Homo sapiens: one gene and its partners. Changing the gene in region 3 together with the main gene of any one other region gives a genetic interaction. Each region holds a gene or a part of one and is shown on either strand. Other genes may lie near its edges.

Region 1 (3,500 bases), on a different chromosome or scaffold from region 3:
GAGGGGGGAAAAAAAGACTACTTCATCCCACATGCCTTTTTTTTTTTTTTTTTTTAGCAAGAAAAACTTTTTTCAGGAGCCCCCAAAGAACTCATACTTTTTAGCCACAATGACATTGTCACAGGCATAAATTAAAAATTTGGTAAGAAGGAAATGACTATGATCAGATTAATAGTAGCATTAACATGCCAGAAGTTTTCTGAAATGCACGGTGATATTTTTGGTTGTCATGGAGACTGGGGTCCACCACCAGCATTTAATAGATGACAGCTAAAACTATCCAATATGCTGGAAAATATTTGTCTATTTCACACAAAGAAGTGTGGTCTAAAATGTCAACAGAGAGAATATGGGTGAATAAAACTAAGAATAATAAAAGAGCAATGGCCAAACAGTAGACAAGTATCAGTGTCTTCCACAGTGGTGAAAGACACTATTCTTAGCTGTAACTAGAATATAATCTAGGGTAGTGACAGACAAGTAAAGAAAAAATTTAAAAGCATCAACTTTCATGAGGATAAAGAAATAACAGGATTAGGAATGGAGAAAGAATATTAACAGTTACTAAATACCTGTTATGCTAGGTGTTCTCATAAATTCCTTCATTTAATAAACACAGAGTTAGTATTTTAGTCTTCCCAAGTGCTGACATAGCTAAATTATACATATTTAGGTAACCCCAGAGAGTCAATAAAAATTTATTTATATCAGAAAATACTACAATTTTTAACTGAGAAGGAAAGCTTGGCATATGCTTACACTATAATCAGTACAGTTTAAAACAGCCATGTCACAAACCTTTGAAGTCTTCTTCTGCATTAGGTACAAAAAAAGTATTAAAAACTGACTCAGATTAAGAGACAACAACTGTAAAATATGTGTTTTACATATAAAAATGTGTATAGTTTTAAGATATCACCACTTAAGAGTCACACTTCCAACAAACTACTTAAAAATCACTGATCATGTCATTTGTTCAACACAGCTACCTCCAAATTCACCCAGTATGGAGCTACTCATTGCAGCACTAGCATATCACAGTGTTAGTACTTAAGATTTTCTTCTATATTGTCTTCTACTGATACCAAATACTAATTCAGAACAGAAATCTAGGAGTTATATCTACCACAGGCCACACTAATTGTTAAGAGCCATATACGAAGTCTATTTCTAAGGAAAAAAGACATGACCATGAAGAAACCCACAGAGGTTACTCACAAAATTAATCACTCAGCATTGGTATTAGTAGGATCAAGAAAAAAAACTTAAAAACCAACTATGGATAGTAACAAATAAAAACCTAGGAATTTTGGGATTAACAGTACAACATCATATGTAATCTGAATATCATTATGAAAACTGAATTAACTTATTTCCTAGAGAAACACAGAATAAAACTACCAGGGGTATATAACTGAAAGTGTGAACATGTCAGATACAGAAATCAAGTAAAATACTCACTGCCAAAGCCTTGGACAGTTTGGCTCTAAATTCATTCAGGATGATTGCCACAATGTCCTTAAGTGGTACGTAAGCAAAGCCATCTTCCAAATAGACTTTCCTTCCTCGAAACAAATCCAGAGCATCAGCAAAAGGGATCTGAATTAAGAGTAAAACAGGCAAAATAAGTCAGCACCTGTCATTAAGAAATCCTAAGTCTTCATATGTATAAAGTATAAACAAAGAAATTCATTAGTCCTAGCAGAGCCAAAAGAATATCAAAATGATTAATTTATCCTCCTTAAAACTCAACAGCATTAGCAAACAGTGGCAGTACAAAAATATGTTCGTTTCAGAGTTGATGTTTTGAAAAATAGTAACACTAAAAGGCCAAGTTGGAATGCTTACTTTTATTCCTTAACCTCTGAATTTACAAAACATAATCCCCAGGATTTCAAACTCTTAACTCAAGACTTCTACACATGTTGCATTCACCTCACATATCCCACTTTGTATTCTGCATCAGAGAGAATCCTAATTTGTAAACAACATATTCAGAGCTGAAAATTACTTGTAAGTAAATTCCAATTTCTTCATGTATGTTTCCATTCTCACTCCAGAGAAATATACTGAAAAAGCTAATCTCAGTACTAAGAAATGGAAATAATAAGCATTCAGTTTTGCTATTAAAAGAAGTATTTGCCCCAAGAATTTATTTTTAAAAATCTTAGATTTTTAAACCCTATGAACAATCTTAAAATTCTAAGAGATGAGCGAAGTATGATATTAGTAAACTGTAAAAATCATTCTTACTCTCCAATAGAATTTTTCTTTTTTAAAAAACGAGGTTAAAAAATTAGGTGAAAAATGATTCCCAAATTGCCTATTCATTCAAGTTTTAAGGAAGAATTAAATATAAATGCATACAATTTTCTGTATATCCAACGACATCTCACACTATAAACAGATCATGTGCTTTTTAACAACTTTCAATTAATTTACCTATTTCTACAACTGCAACACAGTCCCTGCCCTCATGGGCACACACGGAAAGTCAAACAGACCTACAGGGTAAATTGTGTGATACTGCACCAAATAGGTAGCTTACATAGGACATATCAGATGAGCAGGTAAGAGGGTTTACTGCAATAATATAGGGAAGAAACATGAGTTCTAGTCCAAGCTCTGATACTGACTAGACTTATTTGGTGAATTTAATGAATGCCTCTAAATCTCAGCAGCCAGATCTGTAAAGCTGAGAGAGGGGAGGAAGACACAGGCTAACTGACCCTTAGGGATTCTTTAGCCATAGTATTTCATGATTCTAGCTTATTAAGGTGGTCACAGTGGAAACAAAAATGCCCAAGTAGAAGCAAAAGATGATGTGAAGGCAGAGTAACTGGAAATGTGTGGTGTAAGAGAAATAAATATTGATCACCACACTCTAGGCTTGAAAGGCTGACTGAATGATGGCCCAACAGTCGAAACGAAGAAGCTGGAATGGGGCAGGACTTTAAACTACTGGCACTCACTCATAATAATTAGCACATTCTTTTCAAAGGAAATTGTGGGGTTGCAGTTATCAAATTGTAAAATGAATTTAAACTCTTCCCTCTTCCCCTTCTGGAAGGGTTCATGTGACGTAGTTATCTGAACTGAGTGGGGAGGGGAAACTGAGGTGGCCAAGCACAGGATGATGGAATCTGAGTAGGTTAAGGAGGGCATTCCCATAGGAAAAAACGTAGGCTTACAATGTCAGAGCCCAGTGGAATCACAGAGAGACCATGAGGCAAGACACCACGATGTCAGAGGTCAAGAGAAGCGAAAGGGGGCTTCCACGCAAGGCAGCAATCCAAACAGAGTGTTGGGCCAAATGGGTGATGAGGGTTTCCTGGCAGGGGATAGCCCAGTGCAGGGTGTAAGAACCCAAACAATGCAAGGAGGGTATTCCATTAGGAAAACAGCCTGTAATGGGAGGTCAGAGCCCAAGCAGGGTTGGGAATGCGTCCGTGGAAGGAGACAGCCCAGGAGAGAACATTGGCACACCATTAGTGCAATGA
Region 2 (3,185 bases), on a different chromosome or scaffold from region 3:
GAAAGAGGAGGAGATAGCCACTGGCCAGGCATTCCCCTTCACAACAGTAGAGACCTACACAGTGAACTTTGGGGACTTCTGAGATCAGCGTCCTACCAAGACCCCAGCCCAACTCAAGCTACAGCAGCAGCACTTCCCAAGCCTGCTGACCACAGTCACATCACCCATCAGCACATGGAAGGCCCCTGGTATGGACACTGAAAGGAAGGGCTGGTCCTGCCCCTTTGAGGGGGTGCAAACATGACTGGGACCTAAGAGCCAGAGGCTGTGTAGAGGCTCCTGCTCCACCTGCCAGTCTCGTAAGAGATGGGGTTGCTGCAGTGTTGGAGTAGGGGCAGAGGGAGGGAGCCAAGGTCACTCCAATAAAACAAGCTCATGGCACGGACTGCTCACATTCTGAGGTGTCAGGGATGGGGAGGAGGGAGACCGGCTGGTGGGTGCATGGGCTATGGTCACTGTGGGCACCCCTGCAGGAGTCCCATAGCCAGAGTGCCCAGGGCTCAAGGCTCGCATCAGCAAGTGCTCAGGCTTTATTTACAATGCCGACACTGCAGGGAATGAACAGCCTCCATCTGGGCCTCTCTGGTCAAAACCACTTTTTTGAGTCAGGGGCCCAGCCCCAGGCCTCCCAGGTCATCGTCCTCTGCCCCGAAGCCCGAGAAGCTGATGGGCTGGCAGGCCAGGCTGCGCAGGTTCACAAGGCAGGCGGTCTGCGTGGCACTGAAGTCAGGGACAGTCACCAACAGCACTGTCTGGTCCTCAGGACCTGCAAAGAAGTCACATAGGACCCACTGTAGGTTCCAAGTAAGTCCTGCCTCAAAGAGAAGCTGCCAGAAATAAACAGGAGTCCCCATTGGCACACAGTGGGGCAGTGACAATAGGAGACCAGAGATTAGCCTTGAGAGGCACACAGGCTGGGAGCCGTTCCAGTCCCTGCCCAGCTGGCGAGGCAGCTTGGCTCCCACAGTGAAATGGCAGCTGTGCAGAAGACCTCAGCTGTCCATCCCACAAGGGCCAGGGGGACTCCACAATGCAGGTTTTCTTCTCTGTGAACCTTGTCCCCAGGTGAGAGCAAATCAGCAAATCAGCCTGGGCCCCCAGAAGACAAAAATTACCTCGGATGATTTTGGAGCCAAAGCTGGGGGTGTTGCCACAAAAGTAGACATGCGGGCACTCTGGGAAGATGAACGGGTCAGTTTTGTAGAAGGGGTAACAACCTGGAGGAGAAGGGGCAGCTCTGAGGAGGGTTCCGCCTCAGCACTAGCACTCTGCACAGGATGTGGGGCTGCAGCCCCTCCTCCCATTGCAGGCCAGTAGGAGACCCCCAGTGTGACAATAGGGGCACCTCCAGACATTGTCACAAGACCTTGGCCCTGCTGTTGCTGCCCGTTGGGGTGGGCAGCCATTGGCCTTAGAATTAAGATTCCAGAGTAGCTTCCAGAGCAGGTGCCAAGCCTCTGAACTTCTCCTCAGACAGTTCTCAGCAATGCTGGCAAGTGCAAACCCACAGGGGGACCCTGTGCACTTCAGGGTCCTGCCAGGCCTCCTGGCCCTCTGCTCCCACCCTGTATGGCTGAGCCTGTTACCTAGAGTGTCAGGGGCTGTGGGGCTGATGTGACGGACCCGCAGGGTCCACTCCAGGATCTCCAAGTGATCCTCCATGCTGCTGTATCGGAAAATGTCACTCACGTTCTGTCCTGATGTCCCCAAAAATCTGCAAGGCAAAGCTCAGCTGACTCTTGGCTTTGGGTGCCACCCATAGTGGTCAGCCCAGAGCTCATCTGGCGCTCTTGTGGGGATGCCCCAGAGAGAAGGAACAGATGCTAGGTGGGCCTCTGCAGCCCTGCCACCTTCCTGGGCCCTCCCTCCCCTCCCTTCTTTGTGCCTCCTGAGGCAAAAGGCTGGGTCAGACTGAAGTGTGGCTGTGCCAGCTACCTGACTCCATCAATGGTGGCCTGGTAGGGGTTGGTGACCAGCTGGAGCGTGGAGTAGGCAGTGGCCAGCGGGAACATGCAGGGGTGGAGGGGCTGCTGGGGGAGCGTGTAATTGGTGGGATCAAACTCGCCTGGCATCACGTCCACGGGCACTGAGGCCTGGAAGGCACAGGGCAGGGAGAGCTCACAGGGCCCCGAAGGAGCCCCCTACACCAACTCCGGCCACTCCCCCTGCCCTCCTGCCTGCCTTCTGTTGCCCAGTGGCAGCTTTGAAGACTGCAATCCCCATCACCCCTCCAGCCCCCAGCTCGCTCACGCTCAGCTGCAGGAGGATCTCATCCAGCATCTTAACAGCCTCCACGCTGGCTGCCTGGGTTTTCTTGGTGAGGTATTTGGCCTGGAATAGAAGCCCAGAAGGCCATCAGGCCCAGGCGAGTCCCAGGCTCAGAGGAGAGTAGAGCCCCACCAGCTGGAAGATGCAGTTGTTGTCCCATAGACCCTCACTCCCTTCAAGCCTCCCACCATCCTCAGCGAGGGCCTGGGCATGAGGAGCCCCATTGCAGGAGGCCCCAGAGTCACTGCAGGGCGCTTCCCACCGACCTGCGAGACCTCACAGGGTACCCTACTCGCCCTGGGGAAGGAGGGTCTTACAGGCTTGCAGGCTCCTGGGCTGGGGCTGAATGCAGCCAGGTGGGCTCCATACCTTATTGATAGAATCCCTGCTCTGGGTGCTGTGGCTGAGGAGGTTGCCAGCGAGGATAACCCGGGAGACGTGGGCGGCGCTGCACTGCTCCCCTTCGTCCCCAAGCTGCCCCGTCACCACATCCACCAGCAGCTGGGTGCCCAGCAGGCTCTCGCCTCCACCGCCACCCAGGCCCAGGCCGGACACCAGTAGCACAAACCTGCGGGAGAAGGTGGGGTCCTCCAGGGTGCCGAGAAGGGAGGCAGCCCCTCCTAGGTGCAACTCAAAGATTCCACTGACCATGAGCTGGTTCCAGCTCCCGAGAACTGCTGCTCACCTATCTGTGTCAAGTGGGGGTGCGGGCTTCTGGGGAGCAAGGTCAGCAAAGCAATAGTCCTCCACCAGAAACTTCCCGTCGTCTCTCACGGAGCCAAACACAGCCAGGACAGTCCCTGGGGAGCAGTGGCATCAGGCCTGAGCAGGGAGCCCCAGGTGCTACCACTCCTTCCAGTCACCCCAACGGGCAAAACAAGCCAGTTCTCCACAACCACATTGGTGAATTCTCACCT
Region 3 (3,500 bases):
GCAACAAAGTGAGATCCCTCTCTACAAAAAATTTAAAAATTAGCTGGGTGTAGTGGCACATACTATGGTTCCAGCTACTCAAGAGGCTGAGGTGGGAGGATCACTTGAGCCTGGGAGATCAAGGATGCAGACTGCAGTGAGCCATGATTGCGCCACTGCACTCTAGCCTGGGTGACAGAGCAAGACCCTGTCTCTTAAAAAAAAAAAAAGAAAGAAGAAAGGCCGGGCATGGTGGCTCATGCCTGTAACCCCAGCACTTTGGGGGGACAGAGTGGGTAGATTACCTGAGGTCAGGAGTTGGAGACTAGCCTGACCAACATGGTGAAACCCTGTCTCTACTAAAAATGCAAAAATTTGCCAGGCCTGGTGGCACACGCCTGTAATCCCAGCTACTCCGGAGGCTGGGGCAGGAGAATCGTCTGAACCCAGGAGGCAGAGGTTGCAGTGAGCCAAGATGGCGCCATTGTACTTCAGCCTGGGCAACAAGAGCAAAACTCCGTCTCGGGGAAAAAAAAAAAAAGAAAAAAAGAAAAGCACATTTCTCAAGGGGATCTTAGCTTTATTGTTAACCTTACATTACAAGATTTAGGGAGTACTTTCTATTGCTTTCAATAGAAAGTTTCTATTGAAACTTCAGAACAAGTTTCAACTTACTACCTAAACAAATGGATCTTCTAAGTATTTGTATAAATCTCATACTTCATAAAAATTTATACTCCATTACCACTGGAAAGTGGCCAAGAAGATACACTCTATAGTCCTCAGTTGGGCAAAGTAATTTAACTATTTGAAGTTCTCAAGGTCCAAGGTTGTAACAGGGGGCACATTAAGACGATCTCTGGTATCACTAAAGAAGATAATCTAATATTGAATCTTACAATATTGAAACAACCATCAGGTATGCCCCATTTAGGCTGTCAAATCACAAGAGTATTCGAAAAATCCCAAAATCACCTCTCCTACCAGTTTTGTGATGCGATCTAATACCAGTTATCCCATTTATAACTAATCAATACTGAGCACTGAATCTATAAAGCATGTAACTTCCTGTAATTTTTCAAGGCTTCAGTCTAATTCTTTTACTGATTTGAAAAGCAGAGCTTAAATAGGTTTTAAAGTATTAAATAAGTCATAATCACTCACCAAGTTTTACTGGACTAGGTATTTTTTTTTTCAGTAGGAAAAGGAATGGCTTGCAGACAGAAGCTTTTAGTTGAGAAGATGAACATTCATGTTGAGAAGTGGCTTTCAAGTTCCTACAGAAGAGGTCCACATGTCCGTGTTCAGAGAAAGGTTCTGTTAAAGAACTTGTCAGATAAAACATGCCGTGAAGAGTACAGACAAGTTGACCAAGTATAGAAGCAAATTCTTTCTTGACAATGTCAGAATCATCTTTGACTTTATCTCTGGGGAAAAAAAAGAAAAAGTACTAAACTTTCTTGCCTAATTTTGTGGTCTAAATAGTCTTGCTTAATTTGGGACAAAAGTACTGGTAAAACAAAGCCTAGAAGGAAAAAATGTTAAATTCTAAAACTAAAAGCAACATTTGCTTTACATATTCAACAATAAACACAACCCTGCATACATAGCCAGACAATTATGATCTTTCCAATAGAGTGATATATTCAAATTAAAATCTTAGTACATACATAAGAATCTTGGGAACTCTGTTACAAGAATTCTGCTGCTGCAATAAGATAAAAAATCCACTAACACAACTAGCCCGGATTACTTCATGGGAGCTCTGCAGGGCCCAGTTGTAAACTGCTGTTCTCCACTCAAGGAATATTCTTCTTGGAAACAGAGTCAGAAGAAACACACATCGTGATTGTGCCTGTGGTGCTGAAAAAATTAAGTCTATTAAACAAGATTTCTACTAATGTTAATTTTATGTATACACATATACATATATATAAGTAAAGTAACATTTGTGTATACATATATATAAATAAAAGTCAAGTAACACTTAAAATACATTTAATACCTAATTTAATTAAAAGCTCCTTTTCAGAAAATAAAGCAAGTGCACTGAAAAAGGTCTATACACAACCTTACTAAATAATCAAGGAAATGCAAATTGAAAATCATACCTACCAGATAGGAAAAAGAAAAAATTTAAGATACTTAACTCCATGACATTTTTTATTTTCTAGATAGCAAAAATTTTAAAGTCAGCTAAGTGTCAGTGAGGATGTGGAACTCATACTCTGCTAACAGGAGTGTAAACTGGTGTATCTTTGGAGAACAATACAGCAGAATAGAGGTGAAGATGTGCAAACTCTATAACCCAACAATACTACTCCTAGGTAGGTAAAAACGTTAAAATAATGCTTCTCAAACTTTAATATGGATATGAATCACCTATCTTGTTAAAATGCAGATTCTGATCAGTAGGTCTGGGTGGAGCATAAGATTCCCCATTTCTTTCTTTCTCTCTCTTTTTTTTTAATGTGCTCTTTCAGCAGAATCAAAGACGCTCCATTTCTAACAAGTCCCTAAATGGTGGCGATGCTACTGGTCTGTGGAGCATACTTTTCAAACAGCAAGGACTTAGAATGACTAAAGAATCATTTATAAAAATATTCATTTAAATGTTGCTTGTAATTGTGAAAAGTTGGAAACAACTTGATTGTCCACCAATAGGAGGTCTGATAGTGTCCATCCAAATTTGGCTACTATTTGGAAGTTTAAATAAAAACTAGAGTTACCCATATCACCATGGATAAGTCTCATAAAGATAGTGTTGATCAACAAAATGTAAGCTGTAAGAAGCAAAACAATTTCTTATATTATTTATAAATAAATACATATATAGTAAAAGTAATAGAACATTCAACAGAACAATCAACACCAAATTCAGAACAGTAGTAATCTCTGGGGAAAAAAATGAGGGGAATGAAATCATAGAGGGACAAAGGCTTCCATCATATCTCTAATAGCCCAGGCTGGAGTGCAGGGGTGCAATCTTGGCTCACTGAAACCTCTGCCTCCTGGGTTCAAGAGATTCTTGTATCTCAGCCTCCCTAGTAGCTGGGACTACAGGCGTGAGCCACCATGCCTGGCTAATTTTTGTATTTTTAGAAGAGATGAGGTTTTGCCATGTTGGCCAGGCTGGTCTCAAGCTCCTGACCTCAAGAGATCCGCATGCCTTGGCCTCCCAAAGTGCTGGGATTACAGGCGTGAGCCACCGTGCCTGGCCTAATGTTTCTATTTCTTAAACTGAGAAGTTGGTATAAGAATTTTTGGTATATTGTTCTTCTTTTTAAAATATTTCTCAAATACTTCCTAATTTTATTAAATGAAGATAATGATATGTAAGGACACATTGCAAATGTTTTACAAAAAGAAAGGAAATGGGATATGTGGGGCAGGCTTTTATGTGTTACTTTTTATGTATCTAACCCCCTTCTGAACTATTAAAAATGTACCTGCTCTTTTAATTATTGAAAAAAATATAAATAAGTCTTAGAAGTCCTATATAGAGATGAGTTAAAACAAAC
Region 4 (3,925 bases), on a different chromosome or scaffold from region 3:
CTGGAGTGCAGTGGTGCAATCTTGGCTCACTGCAATCTCTGCCTCCCGGGTTCAAGCGATTCTCCTGCCTCAGCCTCCCGAGTAGCTGGGATTACAGGCATGCACCACCACGCCCGGCTAATTTATATATGTTTAGTAGAGACGAGGTTTCACCATGTTGGCCAAGCTGGTCTCGAACTCCTGAACTCAAGTGATCCACTGCTTCGGCCTCCCAAAGTGCTGGGATTACAGGCATGAGCCACTGTTTTTTTTTAAATCCTTGCGCAGGGGCCTTGCTCATCTTTTGCATGCTTCAGTTTTAGTGTATGTGCTGCCGAAGCAAGCACTCTGTCTCATGAATAATTTCAAATATATGTAAAAGCAGACGCAGCTCCCGTCCCCACTTGACTTGAAACAATTTCCAGATGTGATTTCATCTGTATGTCAATGGGTATCCTTAGAGGATAAGGATTTCAGGGCTCTTTCTGAAGGCCGGGTTTGTAGGGTGGCCTGAGTGCCACGTCCTGCCTCTGGGCCCTCTCCCTGGTCTGCATGGTCAGGTGCCGCCTGCCAGGTTTGAGCAACCACTGCAACCAGTCCCCTCCCTGCCACCTTCTCTGGGCCTCATCCACGGTGCGCTAGGCCTGCGCACATCCGTGCGTGTGCATGTGTCACCCCCACCTCAGGTCCTCCGAGAGCAAAGCCCTGGGCAGGGCCAGGCATTTCGGGTAATGCTCCACCCTGTTCACAGGGTTCTGGGGGAGGCTGTTCTGCCCTTCTCTCCTGCACTGGCTGAAGTGACGCTGGGCATTGGCCGTGGCCGCAGGGTCATCCTGCGCAGCTACCACGAGGAGGAGGCAGGTGAGGGGGCTGGACGTGGCCTGGGACAGCAGAGTGGCAGGTGGGAGAGGGGCGGGGCCCAGGTTACTCCTGTTCTTCCCCAACAGACAGCACTGCCAAAGCCATGGTGACTGAGATGTGCCTTGGAGAGGAGGATTTCCAGCAGCTGCAGGCCCAGGAAGGGGTGGCCATCACTTTCTGCCTCAAGGAATTCCGGGTGAGGTTCCTCCCAGGCGCTCGCCGTCCTGTCCTCCCTGCCCAGCTCAGCCCAGCCCGGGGCCTCACCTGCTACCTCTTTCCTCCCAGGGGCTCCTGAGCTTTGCAGAGTCAGCAAACTTGAATCTTAGCATTCATTTTGATGCTCCAGGCAGGTAGTTCCCAGCCTTGGGACAGGGAAGGGCTCTGGGATGGCAGGAGCTGAATGGGATGACCTAGCTTGGGCCCCCTCCCCTGCCCAGGCCCGCCATCTTCACCATCAAGGACTCTTTGCTGGACGGCCACTTTGTCTTGGCCACACTCTCAGACACCGACTCGCACTCCCAGGACCTGGGCTCCCCAGAGCGTCACCAGCCAGTGCCTCAGCTCCAGGCTCACAGGTGAGGGCACCTCCCCCCAACTCCTCCTCTCTCCATGTCTGTGCACTCCAGCCTGAGACTGCAACTCCTAGCTTCTGCACCTCCCCGCAATGTGTTCTCTCCCGCCCCTTCTCTTTCTATCAGGCCCCAGCCCCTAACCCTATAGTGCTCACAGCTGCCAGCCCTGCAGACTCAGCCTTCTCGGTTAGCTGTACTCAGAGACCCCTCCCACCCAGGGAAGCATCCCCAAGGCCCTGCCAGCTTCCTTCTCTGGCTGAGGCCGCCCCTCTGAGCCTCCTCCCAGGCCAAGGAGGGAAAGGGCTGCTGGGAGGCAGGAGCTGCCTGGGCTGGGGGAAGCAGGTGGCTGGAAGGGCAGGTGGGCTGGGGAGGATGGCCCAGTGCACTTTCAGCACAGGAAGTTGGGGCTGGCCCCCAGCCCAGCCTGTCCCTGGGCTCCTGTGCTTTCCAGCTCCTGTCCCCTGGGAAGGTGGGGGCTTGGGCTCCATGTGGCCCAGTTCATAAGACTTGCTGCTCCTCCCTCCTAGCTGAGCTAAGGTAGCCCCCGGGATGCCTCCCTCAGGCCCCTACCTGAATTCTGATCAAAGAGATTCCTGGCCCACCCCCTCCAGGAAGTCACCACTTAACCCCTGCATCCTCTCCTCTCCAGCCAAATCAGGAAGTCATAAAACCAAGAGATCTCCAGTGGTCGGGGGCCCCAGAGCTCCCTTCGAGCCCTCCAAGGTGGGGCCCTGCCTCTGCTCCCCCAGTCCCCTCCCTGATACTCCGATTCTGCCTACAGCACACCCCACCCGGACGACTTTGCCAATGACGACATTGACTCTTACATGATCGCCATGGAAACCACTATAGGCAATGAGGGCTCGCGGGTGCTGCCCTCCATTTCCCTTTCACCTGGCCCCCAGCCCCCCAAGAGCCCCGGTCCCCACTCCGAGGAGGAAGATGAGGCTGAGCCCAGTACAGTGCCTGGGACTCCCCCACCCAAGAAGGTAGGGACTGGAGGTGGAGGCAGGGGTGGGAGGTAGGGAAGGGAGCAGCCTCCAGAACTCACTTGTTCTCTTTCCAGTTCCGCTCACTGTTCTTCGGCTCCATCCTGGCCCCTGTACGCTCCCCCCAGGGCCCCAGCCCTGTGCTGGCGGAAGACAGTGAGGGTGAAGGCTGAACCAAGAACCTGAAGCCTGTACCCAGAGGCCTTGGACTAGACGAAGCCCCAGCCAGTGGCAGAACTGGGTCTCTCAGCCCTGGGGATCAGAAAGGTGGGCTTGCTGGAGCTGAGCTGTTTCACTGCCTCTCGCAGGCCCCAGCTGGCTGTCACTGTAAAGCTGTCCCACAGCGGTCGGGCCTGGGCCGTTATCTCCCCACAACCCCCAGCCAATCAGGACTTTCCAGACTTGGCCCTGAACTACTGACGTTCCTACCTCTTATTTCTCATTGAGCCTCAGGCTATACTCCAGCTGGCCAAGGCTGGAAACCTGTCTCCCTCAGGCTCACCTTCCTAAGGAAAATGTCATAGTAGGTGCTGCTGGCCCCTGGTGATCCAGCTTCTCTGCCAATCATGACCTGTTCCTTCCTGAAGTCCTGGGCATGCATCTGGGACCCCCGTGGAGCTGACAAGTTTTCCTTGCTTTCCTGATACTCTTTGGCGCTGACTTGGAATTCTAAGAGCCTTGGACCCGAGTGTGTGGCTAGGGTTGCCCTGGCTGGGGCCCGGTGCCGAGACTCCCAAGCGGCTCTGTGCAGAAGAGCTGCCAGGCAGTGTCTTAGATGTGAGACGGAGGCCATGGCGAGAATCCAGCTTTGACCTTTATTCAAGAGACCAGATGGGTTGCCCCAGGATCCGGCTGCCAGCCCTGAGGCCAAGCACGGCTGGAGACCCACGACCTGGCCTGCCGTTGCCCTGAGCTGCAGCCTCGGCCCCAGGATCCTGCTCACAGTCACCGCAGGTGCAGGCAGGAAGCAGCCCTGGGGGACTGGACGCTGCTATTGATTCATTAAAAAAAGAAAAGAAAAATACACCAAGGCTCCATGTTCCCCGTGACAGGTGGGCCTGAGGGGTCGGGGTGACCCCCCCCCAGCATGGCAGCATGATTTCTGTACAATCAATCCATCATCTGGGGCACAGGGTGGTGTGCGGGGGCTATTTCTTGGCTTTGGCGGAATTGCGGGGTGGGGTGATGGGTCGGCCTCCAGGGTTCAGGCCACTGAACTGCCCGTACTTCCCCTTGTTCTTGTCGGCGGGCTTGAGGATCTAAAAGAGACAGTGTTGGTCAGGCTCATGGGGCTGAGCCACAGGGCCTAGCGGCTCCTTTCTTCCCCACACTCACCTGGAAAGAGCACATGAGGGTCTCGTCCACACTCATCATGGCGCCAGCATTGTCAAACTCGCCACAGTAGTTGGGAGCTGAGAAAAGTGTCACCAGCTGCCGCTTGGCAAAGAACTCGTAGCCGTCTTCTACCACCTGGGCGAGGATGGGAGCAGTCAGTCCCGAGCGCAGGCACGGCCCTCCCCTTCC
Region 5 (3,500 bases), on a different chromosome or scaffold from region 3:
GATCTGATTTTCACTTTTGCTTTTCTGTCAGCCAAAATTTACAAGTGGACAAGAAATTTTAGCCAACCACCATACATTAGAGCAATAATTTCTAAAAAAAAATTAGGTTCTAATATTGATTCTGCCATCACACAAACATTTTGGGTGTTATATCAACTTCCAAAAAAAACATCTATTTTTTTCTCCCTATTTGGGAGTCTGAACAAACAGGAAATCTGCAGCACTTTGAAAAGAATGCTGAAGTACATTTTAGGAATTATTATTATTTTTGAGATGGAGTCTCACTCTGTCGCCCAGGCTGGAGTGCAGTGGTGCAATCTTGGCTGGCTCCAACCTCCACCTCCTTGGTTCAGGCGATTGATTCTCCTGCCTCAGCCTCCCAAGTAGCTGGGACTACAGGCACCTGCCACCATACCCAGCTAATTTTTGTATTTTTAGTATAAACGGGGTTTCACTATGTTGGCCAGGCTGGTCTCGAACTCCTGACCTCAAGTGATCTGTGCACCCTGGCCTCCCAAAGTGTTGGGATTACAGGCGTGAGCCACCACACCCGGCAATTTCAGGAATTATTAGCAAAACGAATGGACTGATTAACAGCTATCAAGACTGTCGTACTTCCATGGCATAGGAATTTTGTCTCATCGTCATGGTTTTGTTTAGTTTAAATAAAGCAAATAGAGAATCTGCACAGTCAGAACCCATTTCCCACAAAACCACTCCCATATCGAGGTCACAACTGTGTGCCTTCTGCTGTGTCCCAAAGCTCCACGGCGCTCACAAGCAGGCATCACCTCCCAGTGCTTCCAGTACACCTGCCAGCAAATCAGACTGTTTCCAGCTTCTCCTGCCCAGGAGGCTACTTATATATTTAGAAAACTACTTTCTACTGCTACAAACGCTGTCATTTAAGATCAAAGATTTTATTTATGACCTTAACCCTCTACTCCAGACAGCATCAAAAGACTATGACAGAGGGAAAAGCACAATAACAATCATGCTTCTCTCTGGCCTACTATTATTCTTCACCTCATAGGCCCGCAGAGCTGAGCCTTCTGTTTCTCGGCGAGCCCACTGCCCTCCGCAGAGCTGAGCCTTCTGTTTCCCAGCGAGCCCACTGCCCTCCGCAGAGCTGAGCCTTCTGTTTCCCGGCGAGCCCACTGCCCTCACTCCCCAGCATGACAAACACTCACACTTTCGTCAACCAGTTCTAGGGAGAAAAGCTTCCCTTCCCCTCGGGAGTTGCTCCAGGTACGGATCTGACTTTTGTTGGTAACACGAGCACAAATGGTCCACCTACAAACCAAATCGATCATATTAGTGTATGGGGTCTTCCTTGGAAAAGATCAAGTAAGAAATCATCTTCCTACAGCCTTTCTCGTCTTACGCATATTCCGTTTTCCAACCTGTATTTTAATCCAGCTAATTAAAACCCCAAGATGACACATGGGTTTGACAGTTTACAGAATAAGCAAATAGTAAAACATGCAAAGTGATTTAATACTAACTCATTCTCCTGTCAAATAAGTAAATTTATAAACTCTCTCCCTTCTCCAAAAAGCATCACCAAGGCAACCATATCCCCTTAATGAAAGGTTCTAAGCTGGAAAATACAGTAACACCAGCAATTATATTTTGCCACAGTTTTCAATTATGGGAACTGATATAACTGGTGTTACACTTCTGTCTCATTCGTAACACACCCTGAATAGAATACACGATGTTGGTGGACCATCAGGAAGAACACACTGAAGCAGCATGACCTTAGAGAGAAGCATGGAAAAAGGAGGCACAGGGCACATTAGGTACCCCACTTATAATTTCACAGGGAAAAATATCTTTCCTACGTTACAGAGTATTGAAGAATAAATATAAACATATCTGGAAGGATTCTGAAAAAAGAACTCTAATTTTTAACTATTCAAATTACTTTATTTTGTTTATTTATCTTGAGAGACGGAATCTCACTCTGTTACTCAGGCTGGAAGGCAGTGGCACAATCTTGGCTCACTGCAACCTCCGCCTCCTGGGTTCAAGCGATTCTTCTGCCTCAGCCTCCTGAGTAGCGGGGATTACAGGCGTGCTCCACAACACCTGGCTAATTTTTGTATTTTTAGTAGAGACACGGTTTCACCATGTTGGCCAGGCTGGTCTCAAACTCCCGACCTCAGGTGATCCACCCGCCTCAGCCTCCTAAAGTGCGGGGATTACGGGCATGAGCCACCGCGCCCGGCTTCAAATTAATTTTTGGTGGAAAAAAGTCATATAAAAGAAATTTATGTTCAGGGTATGTTCATGTGTTTAATACAAATAGTGCAGATTATTTTAGCCAACTAAACCAAAGACGAAGTCACCTGTTTATAGGAGAAGATTAAATGCCTTTTGAATTATCAGAAATATTTATTTTTACTCATAAGACTATCAACTGATTAAGCATTAAGTATTTTTAATTTCAAATTCTTTCAAAATGAATGAAACCCCACAGGCTATGGCAGATTGCTATTGTTACTATATTTTCCAACAAGAGTTAAAAGTTTGCCACAATTTGTACCCCTTTCCTCCTCAGCAAAAAAAAAAAAAAAAAAGAGTAAACCCATTCTATTTGGTGGTATTTGGTGGTGACCCTGAAGTTCACGCATAAATAACTCAAGAGTCCATAATAGCTTCTCCGATTTCATAAGTACACTCTGAACTTACTCTATGCAACAACTCACTTGGACTGGTAAGGAGTGAGGCTGGCAATGGGCACCACTTTGGACTGTGTTCCCCCAGAAGTGTGTGACAGGCTGGGACCTGCAGCTTTTCCAAATGTCTTTGAAGCACCATAAGCCTTAGAAACAGTAGAACCTTTAAAAACAAACGCAAACGAAAAGGAGTTATTACTATTCTACTTAGCTTTTTTATAGTAAGCTTTACAATAACTCTAAATTTTGGAGGTGCCACTAGTGAAATCATATAACATGAGAGGCAAAGCTTTTCCTTTTTATATGCAAGAGATACGCAGATCAAATAGAGACTGAGGCTGGAGGCTACAAAAGCAATCTAGGATGAAGGCTGCGCACACAGCAGCTCACTGCTATGTTTGCTGATGTCAGCCCCGAGGTCAAAGTAATAATGGTGACGAATCCAGACACTGCTGTTTCTGAAGGCCGCCCTCTTAAACACTTCTCTTGCCTCAACGGGCAAGATAATGGGTGAGAAAAAGAAAATCAACTTTTGTAACTGGTAAAACTGATGGCAAGGCACTAGTCACATGAAGAAAGACAGGATGTAAGGGACCTATCACAAATAGATCGCCTCCAAATCCCCAGACAACTCCCAGATCTCAATGCGTCTGAAGGACTAGCAAGTCTAGAATGAAGTCTGTAAGAATGAGTTTCGTCGGGTGCAAAGGGCAGGAATCAGTTTTTGGTCAAGATATGTTAAGTGGGTGACCACTAAGACCCTTCCGCCTCCTTAATCCAAACCTAAGCAGCTGCCCTGCGCTGGGAAAGAACAGGGAA
Region 6 (3,500 bases), on a different chromosome or scaffold from region 3:
TTAGTAGGGACGGGGTTTCACCATGTTGTTCAGGCTGGTCCTGAACTCCTGACCTTGTGATCCACCTGCCTCTGCCTCCCAAAGTGTTGGGATTACAGGCGTGAGCCACCATGCTCAGCCCGTAACTGATTGCTTTTAAAGACAACAACCAAGATACCTATGTTTTTCCATCGAAACTTCCTCATTCGCCCAGGACCATCGCTGTGCAGATCCCCATCAGCAAGGTACCTCTCTTGGTATAAACGTAGCTGTCGCTTATCATCATCCAACATAGTTTTCCTGCAACAGGAGAAATAAGGTGTTCAAAACAAGGACCATTCTGGCTGGTTACAGGGCTTGTCTTAAGATGTACCCTATTACTCAGAAGGGCTTATTGGGATACTGACATGTGTATTTTCTTGATTTGACTCTGCAGTTCCTCATCAGAAGGAAGTACTTCATCAATTACGTCCTCTTCATATTCATCAATTTCTTCCCCATCATACTCATCTTCGCTTCCCACATCACTTCCTGACACCTCTGCCTCATCCTCCAGGTATTTCCTCAACCTCCTAGAAAGCAATTTTGAGGATTAGAAAATGCAACAATGAATATACTCACAGAATATGGAAGCAAAGAAAAGCAGAACAGAGTCACTTCTAATAATAATAAACATAATACATTTGATAATATTTAAATTTTTTTGTAATAGTCTCCACTTATGATGGTTTGACTTAATGATTTTTCAACTTTACGATGACATGAATGTGATACGCACTTAGTATGCTTCTCGATTTACGATGGAGTTATATCTGGATAATATGAAAGTGCATTTTCAACTTATGATGGATTGATCAGGATATAGTCCCATTGTAAGATGTGGAGCATCTGTATTTAAAAGTTGATCACTTAATATGTCTTGTGTGCTAATAACTGTGCTTTACAGGCATTAACATATTATCATAGGAATGGGTACTATTATTCTCTTCATTTTACAGTTGAGGGAATTGAGCCTCAGAAAGATTACATTTACCCAAGGTCACATAGCTAGAAGGTAGCAGAGCCTGGATTCAACTTAGATTGGGTGATTTGAAAGCCAGAAAACTCTTAATCTCTTTTACATGTATTAGAATACCTGCTGGAAGGTTCAAACTATTTCATTTTGCATTTGAGCACACCAGCTTTAAGAGACAAACTAGAGATGGTGTGGTGTAGAAAGGTAATAAACTGGGATCTTCTTACAGCCTAACAAATCTTGACCCCCACATCAGAAGGAAGACTAAGGCTCAGAGCTCCTGGTAATCAAAACGACTAGTTACTTCTTATGACTTCAGCTCCCCCGGAGAATAAATCTGGTGTCACCCTGGATTCAAAGTCACCTTGGTCCCATGTGGTCCAAAATGGCAGAAGTTTGGTGGCTTTCTGAAAACTGATTTTTATCGAAGACCTATACTGTATTTTCTCTTTTTTTTTTTTTTTGAGATGAAGTGTCGCTCTGTCGCCTAGGCTGGAGTGCAGAGATGCCATCTCGGCTCACTGCAACCTCCACCTCCTGGGTTCAAGTGATTCTCATGCCTCAACCTCCCGAGTAGCTGGGATTACAGGTGCGTGCCACCATGCCTGGCTAATTTTTGTTTTTTTAGTAGAGATAGGGTTTCACCATGTTGGCCAGGGTGGTCTTGAACTCCTGACCTCAGGGGATCTGTCCATCTCAGCCTCCCAAAGTGCTGGGATTACAGGCATGAGCCACCACGCCCAGCCTATACTGTATTTTCTTAAAGCTAAGTTGTTCTAAATCCTAGAGTTCCTGGAAAATTCCTTCAGAGGCCACTAGTCACTAAGTTTCCCAAACTTCCCACTTACCATCTTTGAACAGTTCAACTTTTATCTGTCATTCTTTAAAAGATTTTATTTGAACAAAGAGCTCTGCAGAGAAGAACCACTACCTTAGAAAAATCTATGGATAACCTAAAGCTGTATGAGAGTTAATTTGATAGGTGATAAATTAGAACCCAAAGTGAATCTTAATAGAATGAAATGATGGGATAAAAGCAACCATATAAATCTAATAGGGATCAATATGATGTCCTATATGTGAATTCCAAATCATTCACATACAATATAATATTAAATACCTATTAGAATTATCTTTATAAAACTTTTTTTAACATCATAGGAAAATGTTTCTGGATATGCTAAGTAGAAAAAAAAAGATGCAAAATTATACATATAGAAAGATTGTACAAATCTCAACTATATAAAAATATATGCATAAAAAAGATTAAGGGGAACAAACTAACTTTCATTTATATCCTGGATGGTGGACATGGATAAGTTTTTATTTATATCTTTCTGTATTCTTTTTTTGCGGGGGTCGGGGAGAATGGAGTTTCTCTCGTCGCCCAGGCTGGAATGCAATGGCACAATCTCAGCTCACTGCACCCTCCACCTCCCGGTTCAAGCGATTCTCCAGCTTTGCCTCCTGAGTAGCTGGGATTACAGGCACTGGCCATCACGCTTGGCTAATTTTGTATTTTTAGTAGAGACGGGGTCTCGCCATGTTGGCCAGGCTGGTCTCGAACTCCTGACCTCAGGTGATCCACCCGCCTCAGCTTCCCAAAGTGCTGAGATTATAGGCGTGGGCCACTGCACCCAGTTTGTATTCTTTTAAATATCCTAAAATAAATATTTTACTTTCATGACCAGAACAGCATATCAAAAAAATGAGTTGGGCCGGCCAGGTGGGGTGGCTCACGCCTGTAATCCCAGCATGTTGGAAGGCCAAGGCGGGTGGATCGTGAGGTCAAGAGATCGAGACCATCCTGACCAACATGGTGAAACCCCGTCTCTACTAAATATACAAAAATTAGCTGGGTGTGGTGGCACGTGCCTATATTCCCAGCTACTCAGGAGGCTGAAGCAGGAGAATCGCTTTGAACCCGGGAGGCGGAGGTTGCAGTGAGCCGAGATCATGCCACTGCCCTCCAGCCTGGGCGACAGAGCGAGACTCCGTCTCAAAAAAAAAAAAAAAAAAAAAAAAAAAAGCTGGGCCTGGTGGCTCATGCCTGTAATCCCAGACTTTGGGAAGCAGAGGCAGGAGGATCACTTGAGGCCAACAGTTTAAGACCAGCCTGGGAACAAAGCAAGGCCCCATCTCTACAAAAAATAGAAAGAATTAGCCAGGTGTGGTGGCACATGCCTGTTGTCCCAGCTACTTGGGAAGCTGAGGCAGGAGGATTTAAGTTAAAAAGTGGCAAACTATTAACTGACTGTTAGGGGAGATTTCACCTAATCTAAGTTGAATCCAGCCTCTGCTGCCTTCTAGCTATGTGATCTTGGGTAAATTTAATCTTTCTGAGGCTCAGTTCCTTCAACTGTAAAATGAGGAGAATAATAGTACCCACTCATAAGATAATTTTTTTGAGATGGAGTCTTGCTCTATCACCCAGGCTGGAGTGCAGTGGGGCAATCTTGGCTCACTGCAACCTCCGCCTCCCATATTCAAGCAATTCTCCTGCCTC
Region 7 (3,419 bases), on a different chromosome or scaffold from region 3:
CCAGACTGGAGTGCAGTGGCACAATCTCAGCTCACTACAACCTCTGCCTCCCAGATTCAAGTGATTCTCCTGCCTCAGCCTCCTAAGTAGCTGGGATTACACGCATGCGTCACCACACACACCTAATTTTTGTTATTTTTTGTAGAGATGGGTTTTCCCCATGTTGGCCAGCCTGGTCTCAAACTCCCAGCCTCAAGTGATCCGCCCACCTTGGCCTCCCAAAGTGTGGGATTACAGGCATGAGCCACCACACCTGACCCACATTGGGAAATCTTGTTAATATCAGATTACAATTAAGTGGGAATAGTGGTGAGGCTGAGACTATTTCTAATAAGTTCCCTGGTGATACTGAGGCTGCTGTTCCTCAAATCATACTTGGGAGTAGCAATGTTCTAGAGATGATCTAGTGGGTTTTTTTGAGACAGAGTTACTCTATCGCCCAGGCTGGAATGCAGTGGAAATCTCGGCTCACTGCAACCTCTGCCTCCCAGGTTCAAGTGATTCTCCTGCCTCAGCCTCCCAACTAGCTGGGATTACACGCACCCACCACCATGCCCGGCTAATTTTTGTATTTTTAGTAGATACAGGGTTTCGCCATGTTGGCCATGCTTGTCTTGAACTCCTGACTTCACGTGGTCCACCTGCCTTGGCCTCCCAAAGTGCTGGGATAACAGGCATAAACCACCACGCCTGGCAAGATTTGATTATGACTTATCAGATCTAAACAGAGTTCCTGAACTAGTCAAGTAGCAATCTAATTCTACATTAGAACAAAACGCAAGAGATAGGCCAATGGTTAGAACTGAGGGTATAATAGGGTTTACCTGTATGAAATTCACTGTTTATTAAGTCACTTTTATGTACAGAAAGACCTGCCCTAGTTACCATATCACTTTTAGGGTTTCAAGGCTTCATCTCACATTCTTCAGCTGAAAACAGGTAAATCTGGTGAAGGTATTATCTGAACTGCCCGTCACAGAGCTAGAGAGAAGTTTTTCTTTTGTTTTTTTTTTTTTTGAGACAGTCTCTCACTCTCACCCTGGCTGGAGTGCATTGGTGTGATCTCAACTCACTGCAACCTCCACCTTCCAGGTTCAAGCAATTCTCCTGCCTCAGTCTCCCGAGTACCTGGGATTACAGGCGCCTGCCACCAAGCCCAGCTAATTTTTTTTAGTAGAGACGGGGTTTTGCCACCTTGCCCAGGCTGGTCTCGAACTCCTGAGCTCCTGCAATCCACTCACCTCAGCCTCCCTAAATGCTGGGATTATAGGCATGAGGAACCGCACCCAGCCTAAAGAGAAGTTTTTCTTTTTTTTTTTTTTTTGAGACGGAGTCTCGCTCTGTCACCCAGGCTGGAGTGCAGTGGCGCGCTCTCGGCTCACTGCAAGCTCCGCCTCCCGGGTTCACACCATTCTCCTGCCTCAGCCTCCCGAGTAGCTGGGACTACAGGCGCCTGCCACCGCACCCGGCTAATTTTTTTTTGTATTTTTTAGTAGAGACGGGGTTTCACCGTGGTCTCGATCTCCTGACCTTGTGATCCGCCCGCCTCGGCCTCCCAAAGTGCTGGGATTGCAGGCGTGAGCCACTGCGCCCGGCCAAGAGAAGTTTTTCTTAAAATCCTTTTTTTGGGGGGGCCAGGATCGGTGGCTAACATCTGTAATCCCAGCAACTTTGGGAGGTCGAGGCAGGCGGATCATGAGGTCAAGCAATCGAGACCATCCTGGCCAACATGGTGAAACCTCATCTCTATTAAAAATACAAAAATTAGCTGAGTGTGGTAGCACGTGCCTGTAGTCCCAGCTACTTGGGAGGCTGAGGCAGGAGAATTGCTTGAACCCAGGAGACGGAGGTTGCGGTGAGCTGAGAACGCACCACTGCATTCTAGCCTGACGACAGAGGGAGACTCCGTCTCAAAAATAAAAAATAAAAATAAAAATAATCCCTTTTTTTTTTTTAACTATGCAAGTCTCATTACATTTAAAACCCTTTTTTAAACTTGGTCCCTTTTCTGTGCCAACTTTATGTTTGTTTTTGTTCTTGTTTTTGTTTGAGATGGAGTCTCGCTCTGTTGCCCAGGCTGGAGTGCGGTGGCGCGATCTCAGCTCACTCCAACCTCTGCCTCCTGGGTTCAAGTGATTCTCCTGCCTTAGCCTCCTGAGTAGCTGGGATTACAGGCGTGCACCACCACGCCTGGATAATTTTTTTTGTAATTTTAGTAGAGATGGGGTTTCACCATATTGGTCTGAAACTCCTGACCTCGTGATCTGCCCGCCTTGGCCTCCCAAAGTGCTGGCATTACAGGTATGAGCCACTGTGCCTGGCCCCTATTTTTTATTTTCTGAGATGAAGTCTCGCTCTGTTGCCCAGGCTGGAGCGCACTAGCATGATCTCAGCTCAATGCAACCTCCGCCTCCAAGGTTAAAGCAATTCTTCTGCCTCAGCCTCTAAGTAGCTGGGATCACAGGTGCCTGGAACGTGCCTGGCTAATTTTTCTATTTTTAGTAGAGATGGTTTTGCCATGTTGGCCAGGCTGGTCTCAAACTCCTGACCTCAGGTGATCTGTCTGCCTCGGCCTCCCAAAGTGTTAGGATTACAGGCGTGAGCCATTGTACCCGGCCGAGTTACATAATTTGAATACATTGTTATTAATCTGCAATAATCTGTAAGGTATTATCTCCATTTTACAGATGAGAATGTGAAGAAAATGACTTGTTCAAGGCCCTCATTGCAATAACCAGAGCTAAGTTTGCAACCACGTCTCTTAGACTCCAAGGCCCACACACTTTTTACTTTATGACACTGCCTCCCTAAATGCTAAAGATTAAAAACTCTGGTAGGATGAATTTTTACATCTCTGTCAGCAGTGGGATTAGAATCCATGCCTGTGAAGAGATGGGACCGTAACTCAGCACCTAAATGGATTATTTTTTGTATTAAAAATTTCATAATTCCCTTTCTCAGGGAAATCTGTAAAGATAAAATATTAAAGATAAAGATCTGTAAAGATAAAAAATATTAAATCCTACAGGCAAGCCTGAGGGCAGCACTAATGTGTTAATGGCTTAAAAAATGATTCCAATGTTTGCATGCCCTCAGGCCTGGGGCGTTTATTAGTGCAGGCCAAAGGGCTCTTGGGATTTCTTTTGCCTTGATGAGATACGGCAGAAACAACCTGGGGGTTTGAAGAGTGGGGCTGCAAAAAGGATTTCTGCAACTCCAATGCAAAATGATAGTCCATGTGTTCTGGCATATCCCATACCGGTACCAGGGAGCCACACTTCTCACAGGGCACTTGGTCCTCAGCAGCTAGAAGACTTGGATTTGGGGTTGCTTTCTGAGTCACCTCCAGCACAGATTTGGAAGCTGAAGAGGCGTGCATGCTTTGGCTGTTGTGGGCCAAATCCATCTCTGCAGGAGTT

The links.
Region 1: changes in ATR (region 3) and PRIM2 are lethal when combined (synthetic lethality), as found in Homo sapiens cells (one large-scale study listed by BioGRID).
Region 2: changes in ATR (region 3) and POLD2 are lethal when combined (synthetic lethality), as found in Homo sapiens cells (one large-scale study listed by BioGRID).
Region 4: changes in ATR (region 3) and RAD9A are lethal when combined (synthetic lethality), as found in Homo sapiens cells (one large-scale study listed by BioGRID).
Region 5: changes in ATR (region 3) and RPA1 are lethal when combined (synthetic lethality), as found in Homo sapiens cells (one large-scale study listed by BioGRID).
Region 6: changes in ATR (region 3) and CLSPN are lethal when combined (synthetic lethality), as found in Homo sapiens cells (one large-scale study listed by BioGRID).
Region 7: changes in ATR (region 3) and POLH are lethal when combined (synthetic lethality), as found in Homo sapiens cells (one large-scale study listed by BioGRID).

The regions. Positions count from the first base shown.
Region 1 is NC_000006.12:57,380,130-57,383,629, reverse strand, and holds part of PRIM2 (DNA primase large subunit), read right to left. Parts: intron 1,600-3,500; coding exon 1,462-1,599; intron 1-1,461. UniProt on the Homo sapiens protein: Regulatory subunit of the DNA primase complex and component of the DNA polymerase alpha complex (also known as the alpha DNA polymerase-primase complex) which play an essential role in the initiation of DNA synthesis.
Region 2 is NC_000007.14:44,114,180-44,117,364, forward strand, and holds the end of POLD2 (DNA polymerase delta subunit 2), read right to left. Parts: intron 3,069-3,185; coding exon 2,954-3,068; intron 2,837-2,953; coding exon 2,638-2,836; intron 2,332-2,637; coding exon 2,251-2,331; intron 2,094-2,250; coding exon 1,936-2,093; intron 1,715-1,935; coding exon 1,587-1,714; intron 1,218-1,586; coding exon 1,116-1,217; intron 767-1,115; coding exon 606-766; 3' UTR 501-605; downstream 1-500. Other genes in the region: AEBP1 (adipocyte enhancer-binding protein 1 precursor), read left to right, coding at 1-82. UniProt on the Homo sapiens protein: Accessory component of both the DNA polymerase delta complex and the DNA polymerase zeta complex.
Region 3 is NC_000003.12:142,554,734-142,558,233, forward strand, and holds part of ATR (serine/threonine-protein kinase ATR), read right to left. Parts: intron 1,843-3,500; coding exon 1,650-1,842; intron 1,407-1,649; coding exon 1,144-1,406; intron 1-1,143. UniProt on the Homo sapiens protein: Serine/threonine protein kinase which activates checkpoint signaling upon genotoxic stresses such as ionizing radiation (IR), ultraviolet light (UV), or DNA replication stalling, thereby acting as a DNA damage sensor.
Region 4 is NC_000011.10:67,394,986-67,398,910, forward strand, and holds the end of RAD9A (cell cycle checkpoint control protein RAD9A), read left to right. Parts: intron 1-730; coding exon 731-840; intron 841-926; coding exon 927-1,036; intron 1,037-1,125; coding exon 1,126-1,190; intron 1,191-1,277; coding exon 1,278-1,415; intron 1,416-2,193; coding exon 2,194-2,401; intron 2,402-2,478; coding exon 2,479-2,574; 3' UTR 2,575-3,425; downstream 3,426-3,925. Other genes in the region: PPP1CA (serine/threonine-protein phosphatase PP1-alpha catalytic subunit), read right to left, coding at 3,550-3,660, 3,737-3,871. UniProt on the Homo sapiens protein: Component of the 9-1-1 cell-cycle checkpoint response complex that plays a major role in DNA repair. The 9-1-1 complex is recruited to DNA lesion upon damage by the RAD17-replication factor C (RFC) clamp loader complex.
Region 5 is NC_000017.11:1,875,005-1,878,504, reverse strand, and holds part of RPA1 (replication protein A 70 kDa DNA-binding subunit), read right to left. Parts: intron 2,845-3,500; coding exon 2,712-2,844; intron 1,294-2,711; coding exon 1,191-1,293; intron 1-1,190. UniProt on the Homo sapiens protein: As part of the heterotrimeric replication protein A complex (RPA/RP-A), binds and stabilizes single-stranded DNA intermediates that form during DNA replication or upon DNA stress.
Region 6 is NC_000001.11:35,738,979-35,742,478, forward strand, and holds part of CLSPN (claspin), read right to left. Parts: intron 552-3,500; coding exon 387-551; intron 280-386; coding exon 158-279; intron 1-157.
Region 7 is NC_000006.12:43,614,185-43,617,603, reverse strand, and holds part of POLH (DNA polymerase eta), read right to left. Parts: coding exon 3,047-3,419; 3' UTR 1-3,046. UniProt on the Homo sapiens protein: DNA polymerase specifically involved in the DNA repair by translesion synthesis (TLS). Due to low processivity on both damaged and normal DNA, cooperates with the heterotetrameric (REV3L, REV7, POLD2 and POLD3) POLZ complex for complete bypass of DNA lesions.